Regions from separate parts of the Homo sapiens genome. Here region 1 is linked to region 2. Evidence: fine-mapped expression QTL. Tissue or cell type: whole blood. Region 2 holds a variant in brackets; the other region holds the start of a gene. Each region is shown on its reference strand, or each on the opposite one. Region 1 holds the start of PDGFRB (platelet derived growth factor receptor beta). Region 2 overlaps RUNX3 (RUNX family transcription factor 3).

What was found.
Region 1: PDGFRB starts here. The variant in region 2 is fine-mapped to the expression of PDGFRB in whole blood (TOPMed, PIP 0.91).

What each region holds. Positions count from the first base shown.
Region 1 is chr5:150,154,552-150,157,557 of GRCh38, forward strand. It overlaps PDGFRB (platelet derived growth factor receptor beta), which reads right to left and starts at 1,294. Exons shown (of 23, transcript NM_002609.4): 1 at 846-1,294.
Region 2 is chr1:24,910,263-24,912,762 of GRCh38, forward strand. All of the region lies in intron 3 of RUNX3 (RUNX family transcription factor 3), which reads right to left. Among named protein-coding and RNA genes, the nearest start is that of MIR6731, 7.9 kb to the right of the region's middle. The variant C/T (reference allele first, on the strand shown) is at 1,233.

The DNA of each region.
Region 1 (3,006 bases), not on the chromosome of region 2:
GAGCTGGGACTTTCTCCAGGCACTGGGGAGCCATAGGCGGATCCTGGGCAGGGAGGTGGTGTGATTGGATTTATGCTTTAGAATGGCATGGAGAAGGGGTAGAGTCCAGAAGGAGGGAGACAACGAGGAGGCCTGAGCAGCTGCCTGGGACCAAAGGAAATGGCCCAGTGGCTGACCCCTTCTTCACAGAGGAGCCCCCAGATCTGACAGCCAGGTCCCAGCCCCCAGACCCAGCAGCATGACCGCTAGGGGGTTGCCATGGCCGCCCATCACCCTCGAACTTTCCTAGCCCTCAAACTTTTCTAGCTGCTGGGGGTTTAGAAGGATATCTTAAGAATCTAGAAAATTTGCAAATCCATTTAAATCCCCAGAGGTTGCCTGGCGGCTGACTGGCCTAAAGCCAGACTGATTCTTAGAAACAAGGCTTGGGCCAAGGAACAGCGGCTATGGTCCTGAGGTCCCCAGTCCCCTGCTTTCTGTGTACCCTGCCTACCTTCTCCCAATTCCCCTCTCCCGCTCTTCCCAGCTCTCCCCACTCCCCATTGACTGTGCTGTGCTTTGGAGGCCCCCAGTCAGCACCCAGAAACCCCTGAGGATTGTTTGATGAAGGCAGGAGCAGCAGGGATGATGAGGTGGAGGCCACTCACCCCAGAGCAGGGGAAAGGAGAAAACTGGCTCCTCCATCCCTGACATCACCCACAGTCTCCCAGCCTCCTCTCATCTTGTTTTGTTAAAAATATCTTCCCTTTTTTTTTTTTTTTTTTTTTTTACCTACTCGAAGAGATGCAGGTTAGGGCAAAGGGACAGGGCATGGGGCTGGGGTTCCCACTTTTTCCAGCACTTACCTTGCTGCTGATGGCTTCTGGTGTGGGCACAGTTCCAGGCTCTGGACAGTCACCCCCTCCAGGAAGTCCTCCTTACTGCCCTCTCCCAGTTATCAGAAAGACTGCTGGTCCCAGAGTGGGTAACAGCTGAGTAGAAGGACAGGCAGGACTGGTGCAGGCTCCTGAAGGCTCAGGAGAACAGAGGGATGGAGGAAGGGGGCTGCTGTAGGGGAGAGGAGCGGCCCAGCTTCGCCTCACTCCCCAAGCATCCTTCGGGAGGAGCAGAGCCGCCAGAGGGGCCGCCCTGGGTCTGGCTGTCTGCGTTGGGCAGGGCGAGCACAGGCTGCTGCTGGGCAGCAGGGCTGAGGGGCCGGCTCTCTCCTCCTCCTTGTTGATCTCCTCTCTGGCTCCAAGTTGCTCACAGAGCGATCCTGGGTCCCAGATAGGGCGGGCAGTCACTGCTGGCTGCTGGCAGCCTCAGGAGCTCACACCACTATGGGCTTCCATGCCCCCCCACTTCCCCCGCCACTTTGGGGGAAAGGCTGCAGGGTGGCTTCTGATTGGCCCAGCTGGGAGAAGGGGGGGCGGCGGGGCAGGGAGGGTGGACGCGTGCGTCTGTTTTCAATTTCAGTTTTTTTCCCCCTCTCTCTTTCTTTTCCCCCAAGTTTCTTGTTTTTCTTCTTTTCACTCTGCTTACTCCCTCCCATCGCCCGTTCGCTCAGGATGTGAGGGGATGCTTAGAAATTCCACAGCCCACGCCAGCCGCCAGCTGCTGAGTCACTTTTGTCAAAGAGTGGCCTCGGCCCCACTTTCCCGATGCCCATGTCGGGTGGCGGCCTCCCCTTGCCATGGCACCCAGGGAGATCATTTCTCAGTGCCTCAGTTTCCCCATCTGTAAAGGAGACTCTGATCATCTCTGTGGTTGATTCAGTCAACCTTCATTCATTGAACAAGCATACTGAGCATTTACTACATTCTAACACTGTACTGGGTGCAGGGGACAGTAGCAAGACGTGGTCCTGACCTCAGAAGCACCAGGCTAGTGAGCAAGATATTCATTGGGCAAGCAGGTGCCCGGTCGGCAGACAGGAGGCTGAGAGTGCATTTAGAAGGACCCCTAACGGAAGCCTGAGAGAATCAGAGAGCACTGCTGAGAAGAGGTGACATGGAGGAGATGGAAAGATCCTCCAAGATGATCAGCCGTTTTTCAGAAGGACAAACCAAGGCCCAGGGGTGAATTGGCACAGAGAGGGAATGTGATTTGGTCAAGGTCATCCAGCACAGATTGGATATCTCTGGATATTGACAGATACATTCCTTTTCACGTCTCAAAGCCCCTGGGGTGCAAGGAGAGGATTATTTGCCCCATTTTATAGATGGGGACACTGAGGCCCAGAGGAGCAAAATAAGCTTCCCAAGCTTACGCAGCAATGGCAGAGCTGGGGCAGAACTAGGTCTCATGAGACACATGATGGAAGAGACACAAGTCATCTGACCCCCACCCGAGACCCCTATTCCAGTGTAGATGAACCCCCTGCCCTGCTTTCTTCCTAGGTTCCCCCTGTGGCTCTTTCATTCAGTCACTCAACAAGATACTTTCTTTTTTTTTTTTTTTTTTTTTTTGAGATGGAGTCTTGCTCTGTCTCCCAGGCTGGAGTGCAATGGCGCAGTCTAGGCTCACTGCAACCTCCGCCTCCCAGGTTCAAGTGACTCTCCTGCCTCAGACTCCCAAGTAGCTGGGATTACAGGCGCACACCACCACACCTGGCTATTTTTGTATTTTTTGTAGAGACCGGGTTTCACTATGTTGGCCAGGCTGGTCTCAAACCCCTGACTTCATGATCCACCCACCTCAGCCTCCCAAAGTGCTGGGATTACAGGCTTGAGCCACCGCACCCAGCCTCAACAAGATACTTTCAAGTATCCGTTTTGTTCCATTTCCATTCTCTGGCTCTCCTTTCCTACCAGGGTCTGCCAAGACTCCTCCAGTTCCCCCAGCTGGGTCTCTTCTTCCACCCTCAGCTTCTCAGATCAGAAGACATCTCCAGTTACAGACTCCTAGCCCTCAGATGGCAAAGGGCATTATTTTAGAAGGGCATATAGAGTGGGCTTACCACCCCTGCTCCCACTACTGCACCCACAGGGCAACTGAATTCCAGAGGGTGAAGAAAGCTGTCCCAGG
Region 2 (2,500 bases):
TAGGTGACAGAGCAAGATTCCATCTCAAAAAAAAAAAAAAAAAAAAATGTGGGAGGGGGTAAGGGGGAGGAGAAGGTTTGCCTAAGGCCTTGGGTCTAGAATGACATGTGCGTTTTCTAGTTTGGCAGAGGGAGAAGAGGCAAGATGTAGGTGGGAGGTAAAACAGAACTCACTGCGCTTCTTGGGGCCTGAACAAGTGATTGCTGGGGACTCGAAAAGTGGGAAAAGCCTGTCGACCACTGTAGGGCATGAGGGGACAGAGCCCGAGGCCTCGCATGGGCCTGATTTCTGATTTTCAGAATGGGAACGCAATGGATTCTGGTACTTGTAGGCCCCCAAGCTCCCTACGCATCCCTGTTGGAAGCTCAAACAGGTATCTGGGAGCCTCAGAAAGAAAGCAGGGGGCCTGGGAGCCACAGGGGCTCAGCCAGTCACCAAGAACCAGGGAGCCCCACCTTCTCCTCCAATGAGGCCCCAGACCAGGAATCCATGGGACACTTGGTGGCAGGAATAAGACCATTTGGTCTCTGGCCAGGCCCCCACTGCTGCCTCCCAGGGCCCTTGGCAACAAAGGGGAAAACATGGGCTGGGGGCGAGTTTAGCTGGAGCTGGGGCTGCAAACTCAGATGCCCATGGGGATGGGGCAAGTCACGTGAACGAGGCAAGTGGGATGGGTGGGGCCTGGAGCGGATGGGGAGGAGATGCCTTGTGGAAAGCACCTGACTGCTACCCTGAGGAGGGCAGGCCCAGTACGGCCAGAGCTTCCAATTCCAGACCGAGTCCTCAGCCCTAACAGGCCTTGGAGGAAATGTTGTCCTTGCTCCTGAGGCCACTGGAAATGGCAGGGAGATGTGGATGAGCTGGGGGACAAGTGAGCAGAAGAATCTTAACAGGCATGAAGCCTGCCGGGTGGACGTGGGGACCACAGACTGATCCGACAACAGCCTGAGTGCAAAGGATCTGGGTGTTTTAGTCAGCCACAAGCTTGAAGGGAGCCAATAGGGCTGGTGCAAAACCTCAGGCCTTGTTACTTTCGTCACAGGAGAATAAAGTCCCCTGTTTCTGAGTCACACCATGTACAAAGAGTGTTTACAGTTACTCCTGCGGCCTGGCGGAAGAGGGCGGGGTTGACAGCCAGCCTGGGTTCGAGGACGGGTCCTGTCACTTGCAGTCTGGTGGCCTCACTCAAGTCACACTCCTTTCCCCCACCCCGAGCTGCGGTGTCCCCATCA[C/T]ACTGTCTTTGTGGGTTGAGGTGCTGGCCTAAGGTGTGGACACTTTCCAGTCACGTGGGTCACCACCATCATGACCATCGCTTTTATCTCTGCTCATGCCCAAAGGAAGCAGAACTATCATCCCCATGCTGGAGACCGGGGTGTGGAGGCCAGGATGCTGAAGTCGTGTGAGGAACACAGAGCCTGAGCAGCAAGGCAGGATTCACACCCGGATCCCCCGACTCCAAGCCCAGGGCTCTTTTCCTGACACTTTCCCTTTTGTTCCCATTGTTTAGACGGGGCCACCGAGGCTTCACCATGAGACCGACGCTGAGCGCCTGTTCCGGGACCCAGGCTGTGGGTCAGGTAATCTGACCCCGGAACCCACGCTCCCACCACATGCTCCCTTGCCCTCCGTAGGGCAGACTTCCCGGAGGAGGGGAGTCCAACAGCACTTCGGAAATAGCTTCCTTGTTACTGTGGAACGCTGGAGCCACTGCCAGGGAGGGGAGAGGGGAGCCAAGGCGGCCCCACGTGGCCAGGGCGCCAGAGAGTCTCAGAGCCACAGGGCCAGGGCTCTCACACTGGGAATAGGACAGAAGTTCCAGTGCCTGAGGAAAGAAGATGGTCTTCAGAAAAAGCCTCTTTCATTCGGTTACCCAGAGCAAGAGCTGCGTGGGGAGCTCTGGCTCTAACCCACTCCGTCACCTTGGGCCCAGTCCTGCTACGCCTCAGTTTCCCCTCTGCACAGTCTGCTCACTGAGGCCCCTTCCTTTTGAAAGTCCCTGATTTAAGGTAGCAAAGATCAGCCGCTGGTCAGAGGGGCCCCAGAAAGAAAAGAAGGCAGGGCTGCTGGCCCCAGGGCCCACCCACTACCACTTCTTCCTGCTGCTGCTGTTCCCAGTATTTCTTGAATATTCTCTGCCCCCCACTCTTCAGAGCCTCAGCTCAGGACAGCCTCTGCCAGCAATGCTTTCTGTCCTGTGAAGCCCAGTCCAGGAGCCCCTCCTCCAGGAAGCCCCCCTTCTCCCACAGTAGATCCCCATCACACCTCTGCAGGCTAGGGCTGTCCTTTAAAGCAGTCGCCAGCAGGAGTGGAAATCATCAAAACGGCAGCAGATGCTTGCTGGGTGCTTCCTCCACGGCAGCGTCTAAGCAGCTGACAAGCACCATCTTGTTTCGCCTGGCAGCATCCCCTTGAGTAATGTCTGCCACCATCCTATCATATGGGTGAAAAAACTGAGGCTCTGGACAGCCAGTGAGCTCAAGGTCAAGCAGAAGACACACAG